Linked DNA regions of Homo sapiens: region 1 is linked to region 2. Evidence: fine-mapped expression QTL. A gene starts in region 2. The other region holds a variant in brackets. All regions are shown on one strand. Distances are between the middles of the regions. Region 1 overlaps TMEFF2 (transmembrane protein with EGF like and two follistatin like domains 2). Region 2 holds the start of CAVIN2-AS1 (CAVIN2 and TMEFF2 antisense RNA 1).

Evidence for each region. PIP is the estimated chance that this variant, and not a neighbour inherited with it, causes the effect. A credible set is the group of variants that fine-mapping cannot tell apart.
Region 1: its variant is the best candidate, but not a certain one, in a credible set for the expression of CAVIN2-AS1 in lung (TOPMed, PIP 0.83).

The regions. Positions count from the first base shown.
Region 1 is chr2:192,028,304-192,043,747 of GRCh38, reverse strand. The region is part of intron 5 of TMEFF2 (transmembrane protein with EGF like and two follistatin like domains 2); the gene reads left to right. CAVIN2-AS1 (CAVIN2 and TMEFF2 antisense RNA 1) reads right to left here. Exons shown (of 4, transcript NR_187184.1): 2 at 8,863-9,054; 3 at 1-91. Among named protein-coding and RNA genes, the nearest start is that of TMEFF2, 160 kb to the left of the region's middle. RefSeq lists an enhancer at 14,373-14,542. The variant G/A (reference allele first, on the strand shown) is at 8,871.
Region 2 is chr2:191,841,589-191,855,585 of GRCh38, reverse strand. It overlaps CAVIN2-AS1 (CAVIN2 and TMEFF2 antisense RNA 1), which reads right to left and starts at 9,098. Exons shown (of 4, transcript NR_187184.1): 1 at 8,815-9,098. It overlaps CAVIN2 (caveolae associated protein 2), which reads left to right and starts at 8,498. Exons shown (of 2, transcript NM_004657.6): 1 at 8,498-9,143. The coding sequence starts at 8,661. RefSeq lists an enhancer at 8,285-8,793.

The DNA.
Region 1 (15,444 bases), 190 kb before region 2:
ACCATCGTAGCCTTCATTCCACATGTCATGGAACCAATGCGGGGTTTCCGCCAGCTGCTGAGAATGTCTACTCCAATTATACATTCCAGATCTGAGGAAAGAAACACAGTGTAGGTTCAGGGACCCACTGGATCCACTGTGAGATGGAACTGAGCTAAAGCTTCACTGATCACCTGACCTCCATAAGCCTGTACTCTGACTGTGGACCACAGTGATGTTTTGGGTCTTTTGTAATTAGTGTCAGTTCAGAGCTAGTGTCCATTAGTCCGTGAAAGGTCTGATTCCCAATGCACAGTTATTCTGGCAAACAGCTGAAGGTCCTTTTGAGGAAGGCTCAGAGAAAGATTAACAGTATACATTTTTGGCACTGTACCAGGGCCCTTTCTCAAGGGGACCTGACCTCCCCTTTATGCAAAGGGTTCTGTGTCCATAAACTGGCTCTAGTCTGAGACTTGATTAAGGGACCATGACTCTCTTTTTTTATGATGTAGGCTAGACTTTTGTTTAAGAACGTTTCTGCTTATCAAATCAAGTAAGATTTAGTAGGCTTTCCATCTATTTTTTCACTTTTAGGAACACCATGATCCTAAAACACTAGCAAGGAACACTAGCCAATACCATAGGTCTCCATGAATCTGGCTATTCTGATTGCTGCTTTTGACCTTGCTTTTGGCAGTCGAGTACTGCCACTTGGCCCCTGCTGCCCTGAGACCCAATTACTCCAATTGCATTTAGATTTCCCAAGTCAGTAACTGCTATTCCCATTTAAGTTCTGGCCTGCAGAGAAGAGTGGTCCTAGAGCTCTTCAAGGATGTTGTGGCTCTCCTCACAATCTGTTTCTAACAATATGGGTAGAAGGTACATCTTCTGGACCCTTTTGGTGTGTGTGAGTAGGTCTTAAATGACAAATTGACTCTAGCATTCCAGTCTCTCTAAGCCTTTGAACCTCTTTCTCTGTGTTAAACTGAGGCATGCCTAGCATTTCTAATTCGCTCACTGTGGACCACCTTTTGCTCCATGTTTCAGTCAACCAAGCAACCAAACTGCCAGAGCTCTTTCAAATTCCCCAAGTTGCAATATTAAATGCAATATTAAATATCTGCCAAGTGAGCTCATATCAATAAATTCAGCCTGATTCATAACTTCATATTCTTTTCACCATTATCCCATACCCTAGTGTCCATTCCTACACATGTTTTTGGGATTTTTGTATAAGTTAGGAACTTAGGTAGTTCTTTTGGAGTGTAGCACACCTCTTCACGGATTTCACTTCCTATCACACTTTTAGGTGCCCGCTGGAACTTGAGTTCAGTACAGGCATACCTCATTTTAGTGTGCTTTGCTTTACTGCACTTCAAAGATAATGTATTTTTCATAAATTAAAAGTGTGTGACAACACCACGTGAAGCAAGCCTACCAGCACATTTTTTCCAACAGCATGTACTCAATTCATGTCTCTATGTCATATTTTGGCAATTCTCACAATATTTCAAACTTTCTCAAATATTTCTGTTATGAAGATCTGTGATCAGTGATTTTTTTTTTTTGAGACAGAGTCTCACTCTACTGCCCAGGCTGGAGTTCAGTGGTGTGATCTCGGCTCACTGCAACCTCCGCCTCCTGAGTTTAAGTGATTATCCTGCCTCAGCCTCCCAAGTAGCTGGGATTACAGGTGCCTGCCACTACGCCCAGTTAATTTTTGTATTTTTAGTAGAGACAGGTTTTCACCATGTTGGTCAGGCTTGTCTTGAAGTCCTGACCTCAGGTGATCCACCTCCCCCAGCCCATGGGATTACAGGCATGAGCCACCGCACCTGGCCGATCAGTGATCTTTAATGTTACTACTGTAATTGTTTTGGGGCACCCAAACCAAACCCATATAAAACAAGTAAACTTAACTGATAAAACGTTATATGTTTTACTGACCCGCTGATCCCCCATCTCTCTCCTTTTCTACGGCTTCCCTAGCATGAAAAGTATTTCCACTGTATGAATATACCATATTTGGGTTATTTGTTCATCAGTTGAGGAACATTTGGGTTGTTTCTACTTTTTGACTACTATGAATAATGCTGTTATGAACATTTATGTACGAGATTGTGTGGGAATGTATGTTTTCAGGTCTCGGGTATATACATAGGAGTGGAATTGCTAGGTCATATGGTAACTTTATGGTTAACTTTTTGAGGAAGGGCCAGACTATTTTCCAAAGTACCTGCAACACTTATATTCCACCAGCAGCGTATGAGTGTCCACACTTCTTCACATCCTTGCCAATGCTTGTAATTATCTGTCTTTTTGATTATTACTATCCTAGTTGGTATGAAGTGGTATCTGATTGTGGTTTTGATTCACATTTCACAGGTCTAATGGTGTTGGTCTCTTTTTATTTGTATATTGAACATTTGTTTATCTTTTTAGAAGAAATATCCATTCAGATCATTTGTCTATTCTTAAATTCAGCGATTTGTCTATTTGTTATTGAGCTGTAAGAGTTTTAAAAATATATATAATCTAAATATAAGTTCCCTGGCAGATATATGGTTTGCAGGTAGTTTCTCTATTTTGTGGAATTGCCTTTCACTCTCTTGACCGTATCCTTTGAAACACAAACTTTTTAATTTTGATGAACTCCAATTTACTTTGTTGTTGCTTGTGTTTGTTGTTATATCTAAGAAGGTTTTGCTCAACCCAAGGGAGCAAATATTTATTCCAATATTTTCTTCTAAGGGATTTATAGTTTTAGCTCTATATTTAGGTCTGTGATCCATTTTGTGGTATTTTTTGCAGATGGAGTGAGGAAGGGGTCCAAATTCATTTGTTACATGTAGATATCCAGTTGTTTCTACACCATTTGTTGAAAAGACTAGCCTTTCATCATCAAATTTTTTGGACACCCTTATTGAAATCAATTGACCCTGTATACAAAGATTTATTTCTCTAGTCTCATTCTATTCCGGTGATCTATGTATCTATTCTTATGCTACAACTGGACTTCATTTTCTCATATGTAAAATTCAGGAAATGAGGGTGTTGCTCTATAAGGTTTCTATGGTTTCTTTGGGCTCTAACATCATCTATCATAGCAGAAGAACTACTGTGAGCTCTAAAGAACTACCCCCAAAGCGTCCCCAGTGGTCCTAGTGGCATTTTTTTCTCTTTCTTTTTGGCCTAAAATTTCCAGAGTGACTTTTAAATTTGAGAAGATAATCTATCATGTCCAGAAGGCAAGACTTCCCACTTTATATTTTAATCCTTATACATTAACAGAAACAAGTTTTTCATATTAGCTAGTCACCTCTTTAGAAAGCACAGAAAATAGGAAGCTCTTCAAAGGATTTGAAGCAGCTATGACAAAAGGTAAACATATAATGAAGATACTTAAATAAGAGAGAAAATTCGAGTTGAATAAAAAGACAATGTTGAGGAGAAGGAAGAATGTAAAAGGCAGGATAGAAATAATAGATTTAAAGGAAAACCAAGGCTAAGAGAAGCTGCTACTATTAATCAAAAGGCTTATCTCTGAGTGCTCTGAATTCAAGGTGAGAAAGAAAAGAAATAACTCTTATGGTGTAGTTAGAAAAGACAACTAGTTCATCAAGAAATACTTTTACCAGTTCTGAATTCTACAAAAATGTATACTGTGTACATTTAATATGATTTTGAATAAAATAAATGACACTATCTTTGATTACTAGCTTATAAATTACATAAAATTATTTATATTGGAACTTAATATAATTTATTACTGATAAACTTGTAAAATTGTAGGTGATTCTTTGTTAAAACTTGAATACTGGTATCCAGGCATATCATTGTTATAGTTATATGAGCCAGTACAGGAGTAAAACATGAGGAATACATGGCCACTGTATTCCTTAGTCTCCTTTCAATTATCAATAATCTCAGCCAGAGATTAGGAAGCATCTCTAAAATATCTAATGTGAATCTTTAAAATTATAATTCACATTCACAGACAGCAAAACTAAGTAGTTATTGAGCAATAAATCACTTGTTCATATGGCAGAATAAGAATGAATGCCTGGTGTCCTGAGATGGTCCTAGGATAGTGTTTCCTGAACCATTCTCCGATTTATTCAAAACTACTTTATGAACAGTTGGGAAATTAGATGACTTGGTTTGTGGCAATGAAGTACCATTTCCCAACATAGTTTATTTTTCTGTAAATATTTTATTTTACTACTAAGAATAAAAGAAATTGCTGTTATATAAGTTGCACAGATTGGAAAACATTGGTCTGATCAAAGTTTTATGATAAATATCCTTGCTTTAATTGTAATTAATTGATTAAAAACACAAATGAGAAGCAAAGAGAAAAATGTACAAAGCAATAGCAACATATCCAATTTTGGGCCTAGCAATTATAATTATGGGTTTAGAACATCCAATCTGACTTTGAGATAAATTTACTTATAAGACTTCCTACTACCAATTCTGTTCTTTCTTTTTTTATTCATAGAATTGATAAATAACCAATAATTTTCTAGTTATATTTGCCTTTTTTTCCTATAAATCCTCACAATAGGACTTGTAGTCCTTCATTAGTATAATCAGGCTGCTGAAAACTTTAACCCAGTTATTCGTCTATTGCCTGTCTTTTCCTCAATTTTTGTTTGCCCTAAACCAAGACACCATTTCAAATTAAAGTCTTCTACTATAATGTTAAGTTAGATGGGGGGGGCGGGAAATATCTTTGCATTAAGGACCAAAAACCACATGGCAATAAAGTAGAGTGCATGAGGGCCATAGGCTTGCATTTTTTTAAATGTAATTTAGTTAAATTCTATTTTTGCTGCCTATAACATTGGCTAGAAGGGTTGATATAGAACAGTGTGGATATTAAAAACTGTAGCTTGCAAAGTTACTTGTCAGGAAGGCTTTCTTTTTAAAAGGAAAACAATACAATGGGTACAACAAGTATCTTAAGTATAGAAAGAGGAGGCTGGGCAGGGTGTCTCACGAGTCTGTAATCCCAGTATCTTGGGAGGCCGAGGCAGGTAGATTGCTCAGTCCAGGAGTTCTAGACCAGCCTGGGCTACATGGTGAAACCCTGTATCTACAAAAACACCTAGCCAGGCATGGTGGTGGACATCTGTAGTCCCAGCTACTCTGGAAGCTGAGGTGGGAGGATCACTTGAGCTGGGGAAGGCAGAGGCTGCAGTGAGCTAAGAACAGAGTGAGACCCCACCTCAAAAAAATAAATAAAAAAAGAAAGAAAAGAGCAGTGTCAGTAGGAGTTGGGATGGTTAGGTTTGAAAGGTTTAAAAAAAAAATTTAAAATAACAACTAAGTATTATTGTTGTAGTGCTTACTTTGTGCACTACACTCTTCTAAGGACTTTGCATTCCTTAACTCATTGAACCTTCAAAAGAGCAGTACAAGTTATGTACTATTAGTATTCCAGTTTTAAAGATGATGAACTTGAGGTACAAAGGTGTTAAATAACTTGTCTAAGTTTACTTAGCTCTTAAAGGTCAAAGCCAAAATTTGAACCCAGAGGTCGTACTCTTACCTGTTCTGTCAACATTCTTTCCAAATGTGCTCTAGAAAACCTGGGGCATAGTGAAGAACTTGTAAGACTCAAAGGACTTTTACATGTGTAAAGAAGGGAAAGAAGTTTCTTGAAGAAACAGAAAGAAATGTATTAATGAACATATATGAAGTCATGTGCACCATCTTATTTAATCTTTCACAACAGAATGGTTAGTCGTGACTTTCCTCCATCTGTACAAAGAAGGAAAGCAAGGTTCAGAGAGGTGGGTAACATGCCGAATATATGTTGGTAGGTTGAGGTGGATCTTGAGTTCAATCTCAAATTTAATTCCAAGGTCCATGTCCTTTTCACTGCAGAATGCTATAGGATAGAAGTCAAGGTAGAATTAAGACAGAAAAACTGTCCTTTCAAAAGAAAGAACAGTTTATGGTTGAGAATGTGTATAGTACTTGAAGAGTTAGAAAAGTGCATGTAGCCAAATGATGGAAGATTTTGTTGCCATGTATGATAGGGTAAGCAATATCAAATGCTATAACAGATAAGTGCCAAATTCTCAGAGGTCTCTCTCTCTCTCTCTCTCTCTCTCTCTTTCTCTCTCTTTCTCTCCTCTCTCTCTTTCTCTCTCACACACGCACAAACACACACACACACACACACACTTGTTACTCTCATCATAGGTCAGAGAAGATGGTGCCAATCAGGCAGCCTAATACAAGGTCCTGCAGGGGCCAAGGGTCTTTCCATATCGTGGACCTGCCTTTCCTTCTAAGGCAGAAGGACCTGCCTTAGAAATTCCTTCTATTTCTAAGGAAATAGAACCTCACTGAGGTTCTATTCATTAATTTAATAGAAAGAAAAAAAACTTAAGTGAGAGGTTTTTTTTTCTGTTTTCTGTTTTTCTTTCTTTCTTTCTTTCTTTCTTTCTTTCTTTCTTTCTTTCTTTCTTTCTTTCTTTCTTTATTTTGGCTAGTCTTAGAAGTGCATTCTGCACTTCTAGCAACATCCCACTGGCCAGAACATTTGCTATATAGTAAAAGTGGCATTAAAGAGAAAGAAGCCAGTAATGAGGCTTGGTAATGGTCCCCAAAAGAGAGATTAGAGTCAGGAAAGCTTTACAGTATGAGGAGATATTTATTTAGTACATACGATAGGTCATGCTCTGTCTGAGCCCTGGGAATACAGCATGTAACACAGATAAGGTCCTTGCCTTTAAACAGCTTACATCCTGAGAAGGGGTGAGATGGAATAGACAATAAAGAAATGAACAAACAAGCAAGCAGACGACATCCTTTCAGATAACAAGTGTTTTAAAAAGAAAACAGAGTTCTGAAAAACAGGATCCTGGGAGAAAGGGATGCTACTTAAGATTGGATATTTAAGGAGTACCTCTCTGAGGATTGACATTTTAGTCAAATAGCGAGAGCCAGCTATGCAAAGATCTGTTGAAACAGTATTCTGAGCAAAGAAAACCTCTGGTCCAAAGGCGCAAGACTGGGGATTAGCCTGGTGTGCTGAAGGAACTGACAGAGGTCAGTGTGTCAGGAGCCCCTAAAATAAGAAAGAAGGTCAAAGTTGAAAAGGGGTTTGATCATGAAGGTGCTAGTAGGCCTTCATGAGGAGGCTCAATTTTATTCTAAGTATACTGAGAATCCTCCAGATGTTTTATTCTGGAGATGTTTATTCCAGATATTTATTCAGGAGTTATATGATTCAATCATCACTCTCACTTCCTCCTGAAGCCTTGCACGACCATTCCAGAATATCATCATCATCCCCTTCTCTTTCCATATCATGGGCCTGCCTTTCCTTAAATCACTGAGGTTCTATTCATTAGTTAAATAGAAACAAAAAGAAAAACATATCTTACATGAGAGTTTTATTGGCTAGTCTTTGAAGTGCATTCTGCTCTTCCAGCAGAATATCCAGTTGGTCAGATATCCCATAGCAATTTCCCTTGCTTCAATCACATTGGTACTTCTGGAAATATGGATATGCAATCTCCTTAACTGGAATGTAACCTCTTGAAGAGCAGACTTATATTTAATTTGTGGCTTCCTCAGTAACAAACACAGTTCCAAGAAAACACTTAGGTCTTGAGTAACTACATGAATAAATGAATGATGAATAAATAAATAAGGAATGAAAAATAGTTGAAGGAATAGAGAGCAGTATCCTCTTGTATTTGGAGTCTACAACGTGCTTTCACTTTTACTGTGTCATTTGATCCACATGAGCACATCGAGTTCATGGGGGAGAGTTTGGTAACTGCACAATTATGAGATGCCAGAGATTAGAAGTCAAACAGAAACGAAGATGTTAAGGCTGAGCACTGAGAAGAATAATGGAACCACTTTGGAAATAGGGGATCAGGAGGTAAAGTCAATTTGGAGTAGGGGAGGGAGGTGGTGAGAGAAAGTTATGTTCTGATTCAGCTGATAAAAGGCAGAACCAAGTAGAATGCCCAGTAGGCAAGTAATTAAAGGTTAAGTTGTGTGATGCAGACAGAAAGAGCTGCAGGAGTTCAGATAAATCTAATAAAGAAAATGGATTTGGGACTGAGGAATGAGAATAGACACTGAAGTCGCAAAAAGTTAGACTGCTGGGTGTAATGACAGAAAATATTTACTGAAAATAACTGGATATTGGGAAAAAGGACAGACTAAGTAATGGGAAATAGATATCAGGATATATTAATTAAGATAAGACATCAGAAATAAACCATAGAAGAAAAAACTGAGGAGCTGCCATCTTCCATTTGTTTAATTAAAAAATGAAATTACTGCCCTACTCACAGTGCTACTCACTGAATATTTCCAATTTCCTACCTCCAAAACAGTGGACATAGGACTGTGTTATGGGATGCTGCTTCCTGGCTACTTTGCAGTTGAGGACACTGATGTGTCTGGTTCTAGACTGTGACCTGTGGCTGAATGTTTGATTGCCAATACAAAACTCTGCAAACTTTCCTCTTTCTGACTTCATAATTAGCAGTGTTCAAGTAGGTGACTGCTTTGTCATCCAGGATCCCTGGGTGATATAGAGCATAAACAAACAAACAAAAAAAAGATCGTTGTCATTTTAAGCCACTGAGATATTGAGGGTGTTTGTTACTGCAACATAACATTATACCCTGCCTGATGCTCTCAACATCAGTGCCCAGTAAGAAAGGATGAATGTGGAGTGAAATTGAATCCTGTGACAGGAAACAGTGGGGAAACTAAGGATCATTAAAAAAGGAAGAGACATCAAGTTGGCAAATGATACTGACCAATCTTCTAACACACTTATCCCCGAAGGCCTTGCAGGAGGATAGAACTGGAAACTTCACGGCAGGTGTGTTTACCTACCCATCCAT[G/A]CCCCCTCCAGTGAAAAGCAGGATAGGGCAACTCCTTCAGGATGATGGAAAATGCCTCAGACTGGCTGGCTGTGTCACTGTCCTTGACTTCTCCTCACAACTAGTATGACAGGTTGATGTGGCCGAGCGTCAGAAAATCGAGAGAACAGTTAGCAGTGCTTCCAGGTCTCCAGAGCCACAATGCCTATGACAAAGGATAAAATGAACCAGAGACAATCATAACCAAAATTATAAAGTAGGACAACAATTTATAAACAGGAGAGAGTAAAATGCTTGATTGGGTTCTGACAAGAAGAATATATTTAGAAAGATAAAACCAAGCTTACAAGAATAAAGCAGAAATTGATTTTCCATATAGGACCTACCAATGTAGAGATTAGTAAAAGGAAAAGAAGACAAAAAAGGTAAATCCATTTTTGTTCCTACAACGTGCAACATATTCGTGATTTTTTTTCCCCATGGAGGAGTGATGGGAGAGTGGAAGGGAAGGGAATGAATATATTTTTCAGCTCAATCTTTGACTACTTCTCATAACCTAACTTTAAATTTTAGGATTTGTACTTAACACTATATTGAGATTGTTATTTTAACTGGAATTCTAAGATTTGTGAACTGTAAATGAAAAACATACTCATTAAATTTTATTTTTTCTTGATACTCAAAATCATATTTATAAAAAAAGGATTTTTTTTTTTTTTTTTTTGAAATGGAGTCCTGCTCTGTCACCCAGGCTGGAGTGCAGTGGCACGATCTCGGCTCACTGCAAGCTCCGCCTCCCGGGTTCACGCCATTCTCCTTCCTCAGCCTCCTGAGTAGCTGGGACTACAGGCGCTTGCCACCACGCCCGGCTAATTTTTTGTATTTTTAGTAGAGATGGGGTTTCACCATGTTAGCCAGGATGGTCTCAATCTCCTGACCTCGTGATCTGCCCACCTAGGCCTCCCAGAGTGCTGGGATTACGGGCGTGAGCCACCATGCCTGGCCAAAAAAAGGATTTTTTAAAGGAGAAAGAGGTGCAAACCTCTTTAGTTAGTAAAAACTAACTAGAGAATTCTCACTAACAAAAGGCCTTGTTACCAGGATAGATGGTCAATTTGTGACTGAGTTGTAGCCAAATCATAGGTGTGGGATAATCACACTATATCAAAATTTAAATGTAAAAATCTGCCTATCTTTATTCATTGACCATGAACCAAGAGCTCCAGTCCTCCTGGTCATATTTAATAGGGAAAAATATGTTTGGATGGATTGATGGATGGAGGGCCAAACAGATGGATGTATGGAGAGACTTATCTAATGAGGCAGCTTGGTATTTTGAGAGAGCACAGGTTTTGTGTAAAAAAAAAAAAAAAAAAAATCCAAACTGGTTTTTTTGTGCTAAAAGCAGTCTAATTAAGAGCTGAGCTGCTAAAATCAGTTTGCTTGGCTTAAATTTTGGTGTGTCCACTTACTGCTGTGTGGCCTTATGCAAATTTCTTAACCTTCCTGAGTCACCAGGTTCTCATTCATATAAAGAGAATTTGAACATCTATTATATGAAGTTATTAGGAATATACGTAATAACTATCATCAATCTCAGTTTTCTTTGAATTGCTTATCTAAAGAAGTTTATCTCAAAAGTATCTTTGCCTATGTCTTAAACATTTATTATTTATACTGATTTGGAGGAACGTATTTGTTCTGTCATTATTGATTACCTGTATGATAGTGTCTTAGTTCATCACAGAAATTCTTTATCTGACTCCAAAGCAGACACTTAAATAGGCCATGCATGTTAGCACTTATTCTACTGGGGGCTTGAGGTGAGTGGGTATTAACACAATCAAACCAATTGTTTGGGTTTGTAAAAACAAAATTAGTGCTTTAATCTATTTTTATACTTTGAATACTAGTGTAGGTATTAAATAAAGAGCTTAAACCAAGAAAAACCATACCATCCTGAATCTTAGGAAAGTTACTTTGTTGTTGTTAGAGAAAAAAACAACAGGTTTATTTATAATATAAAATTAACAGCAATTGTTCACAAAGACGACTTTGTTTGCTACTCAAAAGGACCCTGTGAGTGTTCCTATCCTGATTTTGCTGATGAGGAAACGGGGAGAAACTGTTAGGAGGTACATTCCTTACACTATGTCCTATGGCTGATAAGTGAAGGGGGCCAAGATCTGAACATAGGCATTCTGGCTCCAGAGCCCAGGCTTCTCACTACCTCATTAAATTGCCTCTCAAATAATCATACCGTGTTAAATGGGCTGGATGGGACCTTGGAGATCATATAATCCTGTCTCTTTGTATTACCGCTTGTAACTGTAAAGCAGAGAGAAGTTAAACGATCTGCCCAAGGTTATACACTTCCGTCTCTTTCCCAACATAATAACACACTCTCGTTGAAACTCATTTCTAGGATTTATACAAACTAATGGCAAAGTCATGACATTTTTTAATTGAATGCCCAATAAAAGAATCATTTTCATCTTGTTTTACCATCTCATGTCCATGAGTAAAATGTTGAAAACGTGTTGCAAAGCCAAAAGGGTCCTTATCTTCATGAATAGCCTGCTTTTTTATAGAAGAAGGAAAACCATCACTAGGCTGAGTCTGTTTTAAATGAAATAAGTATGTAGTCATTTTCTTGGTGAAGAGAATCTCTGGGGCATTAAGGGAAAAGATGGCACATCTGACCTTCTAAGTCATGTAACTTCAACTTAGACAATATATGACTTCAAGAAAAGTATCATCTTTCCTATAGTTGCTGGTCTTATATATCTTATGAGATCCTTCAGGTCACTTCACTCTGGTTTCAGGTAGAAAACCAATGGGGCTAAAAGTGCTTTGTGTTTCCAACAGACCAATCAATTTTATTTTTAACTGTTAAAGTATTTGTTGCTGTTCAGTCAATCTTTTACTCTTGCTTTAGTCAGACATTAGAGAGGATGATTATAAGTAAGTATATTATCTGAATGATCTTCTGATTTCAAAGTCAGGGATTATTTTCCTTGAATGTTTAAGTGGTCATCTCTACCTTTTCCAAAGCCAGAAAGCAAGAAAGGCTGTGGGTCATCTTCCTTGAAAAACTACATACCACAACTGAACACAATTTAAAATTGCAGCCATTAGATTAAAATCTCTCTCAAGGGTTCTACACAAGGGCTCATTTTGGTGTTTTATATAAAGGCCCAGCTCCCTGACCAACTTTTTGACCTTAGTTGAGTTACCTAATCTCTCTGAACCTCAGCCTCTCTACCTGTAAAGTGGGAGAGACAACAGTACTTACCCACAGGATTTTTATAAGAGTTAAATCCTAAAATGTATATAAAATTTTTAAGACATGACTTGATGCTTAATAAATCTCAGATGTTATCTCTGTGAATTCAGCATTCAATTACAATGCACTTATCTAGTTCTGAGGCTTCCGTTTTTATCTTTAGGCATATTATGGACAAATATTTTTGCCGCTCTGATTCTCACGCTCCAAGTATTCATTCATTTATATAACACATTCACTGACTGTCTGCTAAGTGTCAGGCATTGTCCCAGGCACTGGAGCTACAAAGTGAGCAAAACAGATAAAAAGTTCCATTATTGAGCTTACCTTCTATTAGGAAAACATGATAAATAAGTAAGCATATATGTAGTTTAATATAAATAAATGCTCAGGTAAAAAAATAGTGTAGAAGTGACACAGGACTTATTAGGATATATTGGACAAGAGTGTTAAGGAAGTAGGTCATGAATATTGCAATTTCAGATAGGATGACCAAGGAAGGCTTTCCTAAGGCAGCAATATTTTAGTAAAAATGTGAAGGAGATGAGGAAACAAACCCTATGACTATCAGATCATTTCTGTCCCAGATCACAGCAAACATTTATGTAAGCACCAACCACATGCACTCTATTTTAGGTATCTGTTTCTTGACTCTGTATGTCCCAATTTAACCCATCAACTCCCCGCCCCGCCCAACCTGCAGTATTTCTGTTCTATTCTTCTAATCATGCAGGCGAAGAATTAACCATGCCATTGCTGATGCTTGCCTTCTGTTCCCCTGTCCGTGCATGCCAATGTCCATCTACTCAGCTGCTAAGTCCTAAAAATTTATCTCCACAGTTCTTTCACATTTACTGTATTCTTTTTGTTTCTGTTGACACCAGTGTAGTTCAGACCCATAGTACCTTTAACTTGACTATCTTAATAATCACCTCACTGATGCCTCAAAGGCCAGCCCACAGTGATCAGTTCACTCTTTGTAGACATCCATGGGCTTGTCAGTTCACAATTTCAGAATCTTCAGGAATTCCCTGAATCAAAATAACAATAAAAGAGGTTGGGCAACTCTGTGGCTTGTCAACAACATGCGGGCTCTGGGTCAGCTCACAGATTCCTTTGGCCTTCTCATCATTGAAACAGGAAGGCTACAGCAAGCAGAAGCAGCACAATAACCAAAGGCAGAAATGAGTAAGCCTCTGTATCAATGAAAGCTTACACTTTGCTATCACCACCAACCACAGCTGATTTCTTTTCATCACCATGGTTGTGTCACATATGTGTGCTTATAGCAATCATGGGAAAGGGAACACCAATCAACATGCTTTCCCTCAACTCATGACCTTCTAATATCTGAACAGATTCAAGGATTCTTTAGCAAGGAAGAAAGGGAGCAGAAATGGCTTTTGGATGGGCAGCAAATAATGTCTGCCAAATCCTCTACTGAATAAACTATTGACTATGATATGCAAGCCTTCTGAGAATAACCTTATTTTTCCTTCTTCAACATGGTTTAGTCAGTATGTGCTCTGGACTCTCTCATCTCCATGCCCTAGATCGGTTTGTCTCAATGTGTGGTCCAGCGACTAAGATATTATTTGCCTTTTTTATTCTCATTCTTACACAAATGCACAGTGGAGTTTTCCAGAGGCTACTTGATATGTGCTCTTCAACAGATTCAATGAAGAAGCAGGTATAGAATCCAGCTTTGTTGTATTAAGCCAAGGATTAAAGGGGTTTTCAAAAATGTACACAGTGCCATTCTTCTCACTGAATTTATTTTTAGAAAGCATATTCATTTTTTTAAAAATGTTATCTATCTCAACATGCAATGGGTATGTTATTGTTTCTAAATCCATCGATAAATACAAATTTTAAATGCCTCAATTGCATTTTCTAATATGATAAATATCAATATGTATAGAATGCATAAATAAAAGCTCTTTGGGGTCTTCCAATAATTTTTAAGATTATGATGGGGTTCTGTGAGAAAGTGGTTTGGGAAATGTTGTCCTGGCCTAGATTACGTAGCATCTTCTACCTGTGATGCCACTTCCTCCATCACGAAATGCTCATCCTAAAAGATTTAGGTCAGAGGACTCTTCCTCAGTCCTTGGGAGGAAGCTGTCATTCCACTGAATCTCAATGTATTCCTTTTCTATTGCTGCATTACAAATCATCCTACAATTTAGCAGCTTAAAACAACAATGTTTATACCTCAGAGTTTATGTGGGTTGGGAATCTGGGTGTGGCTTAGCTGTGCTTCTGACTTAGGGTTCCTCCTACAACTGCAATCAAGATGTCAGCCAGGGCTGCAGTTCTCTCAAGGCTCAGCAGGGGGAAGATCCACTTGCAAGCTCACTCATGCGTCTGCTGGCAATACTCAGGCTCTTGGTGGTTGTTGGCCAAGGTGTCTTGACAAAATGGCTGAAATTCCCTCCCTTCCCCCAACCCCTAAGAAAGAGATGGTAGGTAGAGAATGGACGTGGGGGGAGGGGGAGAAGAGGTGGATGCCAGAGTATTATTTTTATAATCTAGTCTTGGAAGCAACATAGCATCATTGTGGCCTGTTATTTGTGGGGCCCAATGCAAAAGAAATATGTGAAGTCCCTAGTTCAAAAAGCAGGAAGAAGTTCCCTTAAAGGGTTTTTTCTTTCTTCTGTTGGTGTCTTTTTCTTGACTTCCTATGGTGATTTTTACTTGCTTTGTCATTCTGAGTAGAGAAAGGTTAAAATTTTAAATAATTAGCATAATTTTACCATTCATTTTTATATTGTACTATGCCAGGTTTAGATGCAAATATAAGAGCATCTAATTTTTATATAGAATCACCAAAATTACACAATTTGTATCTCATAGCTTATACATTCATGTGTATTTCATTCTTACAAGAATAGTGGAAACTTACACAAAACGAATTTAACTGTTTTTATTGCACATCATGATGCTCACGCATTCTACCAACTCTGCCTACCTTTGCTTGCTGATAAGAAATGACTGAAAGGAAAAGAAAATACAGTCTGCCCTGTCTTTTTCCACCAGTGTCATAATTTTCAGTATAAATGGTTGGCTAATCCAGGGAAGTCAACTTCCACACATCCAGGGAAGTCACACACACACACACACACACACACACAAAACAGTATGATAGCGTTCCTTGGTCATTCGTATTTCTCAGGACATTATTGCCATCTTTCTCTGTGATAAACAAGCTCTGGTTTGAACAAAAGAGGCATCTTGTTGGGGCAATCTGCTTCCTCCTTACTTACTCATAGAAGTAATGCACTTGTATTAGTCTGTTTTCACACTGCT
Region 2 (13,997 bases):
ATAGTAGATTGTGGCTCTAAGTAGCTGCTGCAATGAACTATATCCGCTAGCTACGGTGTCCAAAATGCAGGCCAAATACATCTTTCCCTGAAGGGCTCTTCCATTATAGGTTAACATTATCTTTCATAATACTTGAAAACTTCGAAATGTATTCATTGCCTCCTTTGTGCTCCTAGAACTTTGGTTTTTTTCTATTGTAATGCTTAACTCTGTCCTTTTCTCTCACTGGCCGCATATTTCATTAACAGTTTCTTTCTCCATGCTTTTAATTTGTATTTTCCCCAACTTCACCCTTATGTCCTATTCAAAGGTCTTAAACTCAGGAAGCAATTAATAACTGTTTGTTGAATTGAATTAGATCATACAGTGAAACCATTCATGTTATAAATAAGGAAAGCCAGTGCCCACAAGGTTGAGTGTTCAATGTCATCCAGTTAGTGTCAGAGCCAAAAATCTAGTTCAGGTCTTTTGATTTCTCAGTCCACTGAAACACTACACTTTGTCAAACTACCTCGACTGTGAGAAGAGGTGAAATCTAGTGACCAAAAAATGCTGTATTGTTTCTGTTTTTAAAGTTGAGAATGCGAGACAATACTAACAAAATTACTCTGCAAAAAAATGTGTTAAAGTGTTCATTAAATTATAAAATAATATCACTGGAAAAGGCCTCCGAAATCAGAGACCAGTTTTACAAATGAGGAAAGTAAGCCCCAAAGACACGAAATTCCTTTCACATTATAATAAATTCCATCATGTTTTGTGTTAATCAGCCCTGATATGATGACTGTGCCTGTGCAACAGCCCATAATTGTTTTAGGAGGAGATACTGAAAATATGTTTTAATGAAGCAGTCAGGTACATGAGGACAGTCAGCCAAACCCTTATTCCCTCTGCTCTTGTCACCTCTGCTTGTTACCTGGATTTCTGGCTCGCTCAATATTTATTTATTTTTTCAACTGGAATAGAGCCATAGCTTCCACTAAGACAATAGTTCTTTGAAGCCAACAAATGTGAGGCCAGAGGGAAAGGAATTTGGAATCACACATTTTTAGCATTCAGAGATAATTCAAGATAGTTCAAGTACTTCCTAAGTGTAAACCACCAGGCAAATGCTTCTAGCTGCCACCATTATTCACCTACAAAAATATTTTATTGCTGAATCAAGTTGCATTGCCAAAATATTTTTGATACAAAGTTATTTATAAGCAGTGGGTTCTATCCAGATAGCCTTGATTTAACCAGGAATCCTAAATTTTAATATGAATATGTAGTAATTACAGAAAAATGACAATAGGTAGTTCATAAAAATACATTATATGACTATTCATTAACTCAAAAAACAGCAGAATGAGAGGAAATGGTTTTATGTTGCTATGATAAGGATTTAAATCATTTATGAAGAACTTCCTGACATATAACAGACTTGGTTAGCAAAATGGTTTTAGAATTTCCTTCTCTAAAGCTTTCAAATTAATATAACTTTCTTTTCAGACAGGGTAACACATTTCCGTTGTTGTCCTTGGCTTTTATGGGCTTGTTTGTTTGCTTTAATAGAGGACAGAATTTTATGACTTCTTGACATCCATCTATCATGAAACTTCAAAGAACAAATTCACAAGATAGACCTCAAAACTAACAATTTCAAAATAAGGCTTATTAAACGCTGAAACGTGACCAAAGGAATCTCTAAAATCGCCTTCATGGGAGAGATTTAAGATTCAATAAACAGCAGTTAGGTGTCACGAGACAGGGAAAGGAAAACTGAGGAAAAGGGTGGAAACGCTGCCTCTAGCCGGGGAAGGAAGAGCATATTATATCTATCTGCTCATCTTGCTGTTCTTTGCAGAGCCCTAGACTTCCCCTAAGCATCAATTTGGTCATGGAAAAACAATAGATACCCACCCATTTCCTTCAAGCATTATTTTCCAAGGTTTTACAGTATCTCAAGACATCATATATGAAAAATGCTGTATTATAAGAAAAGCATTATTACTAAATTATCCTTTTAATTTAAAGCTCTTTGCCTCAATTCCTGTTTGCTTTAGGGGTCTGCAATGAAAAACAAAAACTAAGGGTTATTGTGATATTAAGTGTTTCCTGAAACTAAAAAAGGACAAATTCAACACTTCATCAGGTATTGCCTTGTATTGTCTTCTAACTGTTTCTTGTGCGTAAATCTTGCTCTTCCTGTAAGACTCTGAACCTCTCCAGGATGAAGATGTTGATTTATATTTATTTCATATTGTCTGAAAGTCTAAGTCTGTGCTGAGCATATAGCAATTCACTTAAGGCAGTTGATTAACTTATGTGTAAGAAAGGCCAAGGCACTCCCATATATTTCCCTAAGGTACGCCACACAGTACTGAGTGAATGAACAGGGCAGATAGAGACAGCAGAAGAGGCATTAATTTTTACTATGGCATATGCAATACAAGATATCAACATATTTTTGAAAAGAAATAAAGTCACACCTTCAAAGCCATGAGGCTGAACTAAATAGTTATATTAGTAAGGGTTTTTATTTAATTTATGTATTTAACACATGTGCTGCTTACCTGTTCCAGGCACTGGTCCAAATATTTCACAAATATTAACTCATTTAATCTCTGTAACAACCCATAATAGTAAGAATTATCATTATCCTCATTTTATAATAAGAACCTGGGGCCTACAAAGGAAAAGCAATTTGTCCAAGGTCATACAACCTTGCTGGAATCAGAAACTGGGAAATCTGGTTTGAGAGTCCATGCTCTTAACTGTTACTCTGTTGACCAAGGGCAATGAGAAAAGGTGGCGGGAGAGAGAGGTAAGGGGACAAGAGTGAGAGAGCAGGAAGAGCTGCCATCTTCAATCATTAAGTCAATGGTTTCTATTTCTGTGTCGACAGTCAGCTTTTGACATCTCCTTAAAAAAAAAAAAAAAAAAAGAAATACGGGGAAAAGAAGGTAAGAATCAACAGGGCACACAACTAATTATTTGAAGGGCAGCATTTGGAAGGGGCCCATATCACTTTTCACATCTATTGAACAGAAGTCAGTAAAACGTCCACACCCAGCTCAAAGAAAGGTTGGGAAGTGTTGTCTTTAGCTGGATGCCCATGTGCCCAACTAAAACTATATCACCATGTTAAAAACGACAAATTGCTACAGAAGAAAGCCCTTTCCTCTCATCCAGATTCCTGCAACATATCTCTGCTTAAATGGTCCTGGTTCAAAGAGGACTTCCTTGACCACCCTAAGATAGCATCCTCATCACTCTCAGGCCGCTTAGTCTGCTTTAGTTTTCTTCCTAGTGTTTATCATTATCTGATATTACATTGTGTTTTATTTATTATCTGTTTCCAATCTCACACCCCTCCCCCTGCCAAAAATATATGCTCCATAAGAACAGGGGCTTTGTCTCTTGTTCACTGCTGTATTCCTAGCACTTAATATTTACTCAATAATATTTGTTAAATGAATGACTTATGAAGGAACAATGTTCTAATGTGTCTTCCTACCTGTGTTCTTGACAAAAACAAAAAAAAAAGTAAAAAAGAGTTAACTGGCACCAGAGCACCAGAATTCTTCTTAGAAAGGGAGAAAACTTTCTTTTATGATAATAATAACATATCTTCTTGGGGTAGAACATAAAACCTAATGTCCAGTGTTTGAGTAATATTTCTTTTCATGATACAGAGAGTGGATGGAGGTAAGGAGAAAACAGAAGAAAGAAAACTAGGAGGAGAAAAACCAGCAAGATGTCAGAAATCTTCCTAACTGTGACTCTAAAACTTCATTAACATCTACTCCACTTAGAAATACTTTATGTGAGTGGATTGTATGATACTTAAAGAAGGGGTTGGAGTTTACAACCGGGCAGTTATGGAGAAGTACAGATATGGCACATAGAGAAACACTTATTTAAACCCAAGAGCCAGAGAAGGCCTTGAGAATGTAAGCTCCTCTAGAGTTTTCTAAAATCTTGGAGTTCCTAAATGACAGCACATGGGAAGTGGGTAAAATTTACCTTATATGTAAACACTATACATTATTTATGCTTCATCACTCATTTATGTAGGATTTCCTTATACATTTCTCTACTTCTTACTGACATCATTGATACACAAGGACTTTGGTTGGAAGAGATTCGAATCATATAATCATGTGCTTTTCATCATTAATATTTCTAGTGAAAGTAAACACTTGATTCCTCTTCACTGCCGTAGAAAAAGATAAGGCAAGACGTTCAGGCATTCTGCAAACTGCACCCTCACTTTCTATCCACACCCACTGCAGGATTCAATGACTCGATATAGAGTTCGCCCAGATAGGGTCAGATGATCTTTCAACTCCACCTTCCTTTCTGCATAATGCATTTTATCCTGGTAATATGCTTTTTTCCTACCACCTTTTGGTATTAAACCCAGTGTTAAGTTTTTCTTAAGGTGAGAATAATCACACAAAGTCCTTTATTTTGCTTTATAACACTACCTTAGCAGTTAAGTTTTGGAAACAGTAGTATGCATAAAACATATTAGATAGAGGGGTTCTAGGAACAAACCTAGACTATTAACAATAATTATTTTAGAATTACACTGTCATTGCAAACTACAGTTCCCAGTTATCTACTGTTGCATTAAAAAATCACCCCAAAACTCGATGACATAAAACACGTGGATGTGTCATCACATGGTTTTTCTTTCTTTCCATATGGTGAATATACAACCCTAGGACTGCCTCCTGTTCAAGAGGAAACCCACCCTTTGAAAGGCTTTCAAACTCCAACATAGAGGACAGGGGAAAATATATATGGAGTAGCCTGCTTAGCTTTCTTTGTTTCTTTAGCCACTGGGGCAAAGGGCTTTCTTTTCTGTGGGATCCTCATTCCAGGTCTCCTATTGCTGTCAGACCAAGAGTGCCCAGATTACTTTATGGACCTACATGGAAAAGGTCAACAAAAGAGACCACTGAGCTGCCTCTGGTCTAGGAATTATGGGCTAGTGGTTCAGAATAGGAAACCACATAGAAATTGGGACCAATTCCTTAACTGATAATAAAGTAGGTATTTTCCTGGAATGACTTCTGTGCTTCTGTGACTTAAACCTCTGAGGTTAACTGGTGTTCGGGGGAGCTGGTGATCAGCTGGAGGATTCTGAGTCCTAACCATACCCTGTCATGACTAAAGCCTTCATGGTCCTAGACTCCAGCAGAGCTAATCATTCCCTCTCTGTGCCCACACCTGTACCTCTATCCCTAGGATTTGTCTACCTACCTATCCTCCTAAGGTGGGAGATTTTAAAGGGTAACAAATACACACCATTCATCTTTGCATCCCCAGTGCCTAGCACTTATTTCCCACCAGCCAAGTGACCCATCTCTACATCTTATTGCTGTACAGATTCTTCTTAAACACATCACCTTCACGTGTTCAAAAACCTCCCCAGCCTGTCACTGTATCAAGTCTAAACTCCACTACCTAATTTCCAAGAAACTTCATAATATGTGGTAGGTAGAATTAATTATTTTAAGCATTTCTTTTAAGAACTGACCGCTGAAATTCACTGATTTCTCTCAGACAGAAAGAAGACTTAATTTAGGACAACTAAATGGTAAGTCTGGCTGCTCAGGGTAGTCTATTACTTAGTTTCAGGCCATCTTGTATGTTCCCATTACATAGCTCCTTCTAGCTCCCCTGATTGTAAGGTTGTCCAACAAAACAAATTGCATCACAGCATGAAACTATTCACTAATGAACTGATCACTTTTAAATATAATTTTTAAAGGATATATGCCAAATTCATTAAAATGATTACCTGACAAGAGAGGGAAGGGAATAAAATGGAAATGGTGATCAAAAGGGGCTCCACTTTATCTGTGATAGCCTTTTAAAAGAACAATCTATTCACGTGGTGATTGTTTTCAAAGGTGACTACAACAGTCTCTCCCAAGCGGCTCACCCTTTTGTCATGGGACATTACTGCTTCTCTCTCTTAAAGAGGTGGAGTCTATTTCCACCCCTTGAATCTGATCTTGGCCTGTGACCTACTTGGAACACAGAATGTAGAAGTGACAAGGGGAGAGTTCCAGAGATACCCTGCAGCCTTAAGACACCCTGCAGCTTTGCTTCTACTCTCTTAGAACCCTGAAGTACCATGTAAAAAAAGTTTGACTTCCCTACTAGAGAGATCAGATGGAGAGGCCCCAGAGGCTGAAAAATGGAAAAGAGAGAAATCCCAATATCCTAGTTGCCCCAGCTGAGGAGGCAGACACGTGAATGAGTCCATCTCAGATTCCTCAGCTCAAACTACAGATGAATGCATATGCCTAGCAGAAATAATCCATTCTAGTTGAGCCCTGACTAGCCAACCACAGAATCATGAGTAAATAAAACGTTATTTTAAGCCACTGAGTTTCATGCTGGTATGTTACACAGCAATAGATGACTGATATTACTTGTGTTATTCAAAATATATATTTTAAAAATAAATAAGCCCACACGCAAACCTTTCTTTCTATTTAACAACTAGCCTCTTTCCTTTTACCACCTCACACCCCATCTCTTTAATGTCTCTATTCATCTAGCTGATTATACAATATCCAACAATGCAATGCAAAATCAGCGCAAATCAATGCAAAATCAGGGTGAAGTGATTATAATGTGAAATCGCAAATTTTGCAAAATATGTAGGAAATCATGAAGTTGATGAAGGTAATGTTAGAGAAGCCCTTGAATCATGGGCAACTCCTCTGACAAATGAGAATCTGCAGCTGGAATAGTTAACATTAACATTTGAAGAAGAACAAATCTACATGGATGATGGCACAATAAGTGCTTCAAAAAGAAATGATTTGAATGTCAAAATTTAAGAGAGGCTCTTGGAAAATTGATGAAGCCCTCAAATATTTTTGAAATAGTGACACTCTATGATTTGCCCACAAAAGTCAAATGTAAAAGGACGTCGTGTCATGATATCATATAATTTTGTTAGAAAATTATGCTTCTTAAAATCAACACTTGATTCATCCTTTATTCTAATATTTAACACATTTTTGACCAACTAAATTTTATTAAATATAAGGTAAATTAATTTTAATAATGTTCTTACTTTTTTAAAAGATAACATCTCAACCAAACCTTCTTTTCACCTTTTTTGGTCTCTATTTTTAAAGCATTTGCTTTAAGTGGGTTTTGGTGGCACCAATTATCTGAAGAAATTGAAGGCCTCTGTAAATATCTTTAGTTCATCTTCCTAACTGGCAGCTATACTCATTGAGAGCAGGGTCTCCGTCATGCTTTGCCAATGTCTTCTGGATAGTGCTTCATGCATATAGCAGAAGGCAGAGATTCAACCAACGTGATAACCAATGGCCTGCTGATTGATTGGCTTACATGTAGGTGTTACTATTGACGAATGGCATTGTTCCATTATCAATCCCTGACCTGGTATGAGCTGGCATTTGTTCGTCTCAAAATTGTTCATAGAAGGCCTATTACAAACTTCCTGCTGAAAGCACTTTCAAAGGCTGGATACGTTTAAAATCAACTCAAGCATGTAAAGCCATTTTAGGAAAATAAGCCCCACATCCCAAGGTTCAGCTGAGGAGGGCCACATTTGAGAACAGGTGTGCCACTTCACTGAGCAGGAATTTTAAAATGTCAAACATTAGAACCACTTGAGAAACTCCAACTCAGCCTGCCAACAGACACTTCTGGGCACGTGTCAATAAATGCCTTGCAGAGATGGGCATTTGAGAAAGTCTCTCCTCACCAACTCAAAGTTAGTTAAAACAAATCATCACGGTAGGTTCTTAAAAAGACCACATTTTATTTTTCCTCAGTCTCACTTCTTGAAAAAAACAATCATTTTTTTAAATGTGGTCATTCAAAAAGTTTCCATATATTACATAACAGTCATAACAGCAGTATTACTTTTTTTAAATATCCCTGAAGTTCAATCTCTTTTAACTTATTTTGTATCTGCAACTGCAAGAGTAATAAGAACTGAGCTGTTTTCCTTATCATTATCAGAGTTAGTCCCATTCCTTTGCAAATGAGAAACTAATAATACAAACTTGGCTGCAGTACCCTTTAAACTCTATGCCTCCCAGTAGGACACCCGGTGTTCTGCAACCCATCAGTCAGTTCTAGGGCAAATGCAAACAATACTTTCCGTTACAATAACTTGTATCCAGGAAAAAGAAACAGGCACCCTGTTGCATCTGCAGCATAGCAGCCAGAGAAAAGTTTACCAGCTTTAGCCAATTGGAAGCTGTGGAGCTGGGCCAAGTTAGCATGTTTTTCTCCGCCTCTAGATGAAGTCATGATTGAAATATGACATTGAAAGGGAAGGGGAACAGGAAAGAAAAGCTAAACCTGCAACAAAGTGTCCTGTGCCCAGAACGCGGTTAGGAAGTGTGTGCATACGTCTGAACCCTAAATGGTTCTCAGTTCTGTAAACTTCTCCTCCCACTGGGTGGAGTAGGGCCTTTAAGAGCAGCTGGAATGCAGTTCCCCTGATCAGCGTAGCCAGTTGTTGCCTGTCTGAACCTCTGCCAGTCCTGGAGACTGGTGCCCTGAGCTCCAACCAGCGGGCCTCATCCTACACCCTCACCACCGCAACTTCTCACCCGAGCAAGAAGCAGCTCCCAGAGAGAAAGAACGTTCCCACCTGCCTAGCCATGGGAGAGGACGCTGCACAGGCCGAAAAGTTCCAGCACCCTGGGTCTGACATGCGGCAGGAAAAGCCCTCGAGCCCCAGCCCGATGCCTTCCTCCACACCAAGCCCCAGCCTGAACCTAGGGAACACAGAGGAGGCCATCCGGGACAACTCACAGGTGAACGCAGTCACGGTGCTCACGCTCCTGGACAAGCTGGTGAACATGCTAGACGCTGTGCAGGAGAACCAGCACAAGATGGAGCAGCGACAGATCAGTTTGGAGGGCTCCGTGAAGGGCATCCAGAATGACCTCACCAAGCTCTCCAAGTACCAGGCCTCCACCAGCAACACGGTGAGCAAGCTGCTGGAGAAGTCCCGCAAGGTCAGCGCCCACACGCGCGCGGTCAAAGAGCGCATGGATAGGCAGTGCGCACAGGTGAAGCGGCTGGAGAACAACCACGCCCAGCTCCTCCGACGCAACCATTTCAAAGTGCTCATCTTCCAGGTCAGTTCCCCCTATGCCTCCTTACAGGCGGGCTGGAACTCCTTATCATTCTTGATCTCGCTCATCCTGGCTCTCACAGCCATTTTTACATTTGTCCTGCCTGTCAGGGATCACACATACAAGGCACTGTCCCCTGTCTGCCTGCGGAAAGCAAATGTGAAATCTTCACACAGGGGTGGGAATTTCCCAGGTCACTACAGACTAATCCAAAGAAGATGTCCCCGGGCTTAGTAGGCCCCGGGTCATTTGTCAGGGAGCACCTGGATGCACTCTGTACAGGTTGGGAAGATGTGCAGGTGCGTGCACCCTAGTCAAATTCATTTGTCTCTTTGCATTAGGAGCTTAGGGCTCTGGCTGCAGCTGTTAGCTGGACAGGGCAAATTAATTCAGTGGCTGTTCATTAACTCTTAGTGGAAATGAAGTGATCATGTGAGGTATTTTGTGGTTTTTTTAACCAAAAAGTCAAACTATCCCTTTATACAAAGGCTATCAACGTTTTGGGGACCAATCAAATAGAGGATTGATTCCATTAGAGTTAGCCTTGTTCTTTTAAGACTTTTTTGGGGCAAAGCAATCTTGTGGAGTTCTTTTCTAGCAAATGCACTAGAAAAAGAGAGTACAAACACACTAGACGTGCCTCTCCTTGTTCAGAGAGACCACAACTGTTAAGTAAAATAAAAGGAGTGTTATCAGTTATAGTCACAAAGGCTAGTCTTAAATGTTTCTCCTTCAAACGGTTGCCTTAGAATAAAAAGGCCACTTAATTTTTTTTAATGCATCAATGATGCAATTAATGTAGCAAGAGGCTATCTGGGGACAGGGAGATTGCGTGGGGCTCTTGTTCCGCCAAGTGGTGGGCATTTGTGAATCCCAGGGCAGCCCTGCCTAATGCTGGAAGCCCTTCCGCCCAGTGGAATCCAGCCAGCACAGAGCCCAGGAAGCGATTGCCATCCTCGCTCCAGGGCTGTCTCGTTGTGACCATATGAATAGGAGAGGATTTCAAAGCCATGGAGGGGAGAGGCTATAACCAACAGTTTGATTGTGAAAGGCACACAGGGAAAGCCTTCATCTCCCAAGAGAGATTTAGAAATTGGGATTTAAACCGAGGGAGTCTTCTTTTTCAAAATGAATCTGCTCTGCCAAGTTAGAAGCCTTCCTACCCCCATAAAAGGAAAGACTCATCTCGCTGCTTTTTTGTCCTCCTCAAATTGCACTTGAATATTGTAAAGGTTTAGGGAGCCTATGTCCTCCTCTACCTTGCAGGCTTTTGCAGCTGAAAACTTTTCAGCTTTTAATGCAAATGCAGTAGCTTTTCATGCACCAGATGAATTGAAAAGAGATACTGTAACTGGGCCTTTCTTAAGCCATATGAGATCCTTACTTTATTAGCCTAAGAGATATTAGAAATCTCAGCTCTCAAGCCATTTCTAAATTAAATACTGATCTCCAAACAAAACCAAACATGTACAGACCTGTTTAAGTCTGAGACACCAAAGGAAATTTTCCTGCTTCCAGTATGAATCAGGCAAATTATCTCTTGTCCCATCCCTCAGTTAAGGAGGAGGAAAAAAGTATTTATCTTGTAGAGGAAAGTCACAATTCGTCAGGATTGGGTTTTGTTTTGTTTTGTCATGGATGTTCTGCAGATGTTGGGGGGAGGGATGGAGAGGATATGCTAGTAGAAATTCAGGAGAATTATAAATCTGACATTAAAAAAAAACTGCTTGGGAACTTAAAGGCATATGCTGTTGTGAGGGTCTGACATGGTCTCCTGTTTTGTCACATTGAATTGACAGGTGTGAAATTGCAGCCAGATATGGTAGAAATTCTCCATATAGTGAGTAAAAGCTGAAACAGGGGTGCTCAAGACCAAACTGGAAGCTAAGAATATCCACAGAAATGTGCTCGGACTCCATTCTGGGCCCTTTAGAAAACAATCCCCAAGGACACCTTTAAAGAGCATTTTAGGAGGCAGGAAACTAGAGGCAAGTGACTGGACCTTTCTTAAGCCGTGTAAGATCCTTTATTAGCCTAAAGGATATTAGAATTCTCAACTCTCAAGGCATCGCAAGATGATTGTTTTGTATAAAACTAATGCAAGCACAGTCCCTCAGTGGACTCTCTTGTTCCTTCTAAAAGTAGCAGTTTCCCCAGAGTAGTAATTATGCCAATGGATAAAATAATAATTTGTATTAGAGAGTGGTCCAGTATAGTAGTTCAGAAGATAAATTTTGGAGTCACACAAACAGTAGTTCAAATCCTAGTTCTACCACTTGCTAAATATGTGATATTGGACACAGTTTGTAGCTTCTCCAAACCTGTTTCCTCATCTATACACTGATGATATTAATAAGAGCAAAAAAAATCAAGCACTTAATAAACCCAGCATACATTGGTAAGCATCTTATCTCATTTATCCCGAATCTACAGATGAGGATGTTGAGATTCGAAAACGTTTATGGCTTGTCTGAAGCTAGTTAGTAAGCAAGTGGTGAAACTGGGATTCAAACTCATGTTTAATTGATTTCAAAGCACGTACTCTTGAACACTAATGCTTCTTCCCTCCTATCTCTCTCATAGAGTGAGGAATGAAAGAAATAACATTTAAAATAGTTAGCAAGGACTGGCATGGTATAAGTGCTCAATGAATAGAAGATATTACTGAGTGGATCTGAAATTCATTTGCTCAGAAAGAAGGCTACACTTTTGCTTGGTTAGAAATATGGTCCTTGGGTAAAAACTGACCTCACCTTGCCCAGGATCTTAAAACAGCTCCGCTACACACAGAGAACCATGTATTGTATAACTACCGCCATGTTGAAATCAACATTATATCTCATCTCCATGAAAGCAAAGGAATCTTCCCAAAAGACCTACTCAACGAACCCTCCAGTCACAGCATAATCTTCACAGTGGAGCATAAGGGGACTGCTTCCTAGACCTGTGGAGAATGTGGAGGGCAAATATGTACCAGGTGTTACTCAGTGTCTTTAGGTAATTTATCATTTTCAGCCCATCTGAACCCTATGCCAGACTTCCCCTTATTAAATCTACTGTTTCTAATTTAAGACAAAAAATTATGTAAAAATAAGAGAGCGAGAAAGGAAAATCTATCCCATGACCTGAGCATATTTGGTATGGTACTGTTGAGAAGAGTACATTTTCAGTTTGTGGAATCCTGTTGAGCCCGCCGAAATCTACAGGTCTGTTTTGGTTAGTGGTTGAAGATACTTACACATTTTTTTTCTTTTTTTTCTTTGAGACGGAGTCTCGCTCTGTTGCCAAGGCTGGAGTGCAATGGTGGAATCTCAGCTCACTACAAACTCCACCTCCTGGGTTCAATCAATTCTCCTGCCTCAGCCTCCCAAGTAGCTGGGATTACAGGCCCCTGCCACCACGCCCAGCTCATTTTTGTATTTTTAACAGAGACAGGGTTTCACCATGTTGGTCAGGCTGGTCTTGAACTCCTGACATCAGGTGATCCATCCGCCTCAGTCTCCCAAAGTGCTGGGATTATAGGCGTGAGCCACTATGCCTGGCCATAATTGCATTTTTTAAATTCCAAACTTTGTCCTTAATTTGTCCCACTCAAAACGTGACATTACTTCTTTAAGTCTGTACTGAGTGTTACAACATTGTTATAGCTGTTAAGCATCTAATTTCTTAGCAATTACTTTAAATTATAACCAGTAGTGTCTAAAACTGAAGAAACATTCATCTCTCTTTCAGCAATAAAATAAATCTTAAAATCCTAGTTAAATTCAGCAGTTTTCTCTTTTAAACTTTTTTGTAATAGCTTCAGATCAATATTTGAATTCAAAATACTGTGACATGACCCAGCATAAATAAAATAAGACTCATAGGCATTGCTGATCAAAAAGCAAATGCTAAAGAAAGACTGAGACTTTGCTTCTAAGCACAGCGATCATTTACTAAAAGAAAAAATAGAATTTGTACAGAAAATCAGTTACTCTACACTTATGAGGAAATTTTCTCTTTTGATTTAAGAGACTAGAATTTCACAGGTAACTGGCCCTGAGGATGCAGTAGCCTCTTACGTCCTCTTAGGTTCTAGTAATGATTATTTGAAAAAGCAGTTGGGAGATGATTTCAAATCCAGGGAGCAAAATGAGAGTACTCTTGGACAGCTTACACTTTCGTCCACATAAAATTGGGAAACTGGGTGAAAAAAGTAGAAAGGTTAGCTATTTGCAGTGGATACATTTCTGGAGAATGGAGCCTATAAATGTGTTCAAATCTTCATCCTTTGGGTTCCTTTGATAAGGTCAGAATTTTAGAGAGACGCTAAAAGTGTAACATCTTCAGACCATTTTTAAAAAGCCTGTACTTTATCCAAAGTCACTGCTTTGAAGACTGTTACATTAGTACAGACCTGGAAGAAATGAGGATATAGGTAATAAAAGACGCCTTCATATGACAACTCGCCATGTTTCTATCACGCTACAATGTTCCCATATGGGATATTAGTTTTGATGTGTTACTTATCCAGTGCCCTTTTACTTTATGAGATAAACAAAATATTAGTTCTTATTGTTATTATTTACATTTAGTGAATGTGAGCACTGTCCCAGGCACTTTAAGTGAATAACTGATTATTGCTGGTATTTTTTAGAAAGAATCATTGCATACTCTTATGTAAAAAAAAACTAGACTCCTTCAGATGCAGCCCTTCCAAGTAAATGCTGCCCCTTCCACTGCTTTGTAATCTATATCTATTTGAATTGAATGAATGAAAAATGTTCTCCAATGCAACTCAGGTCCTAGAGTTTTGATTCTTACATAAAACAAAACACATTTGGTATCAGTACACTATGGAATCAACTCTGTAATTTG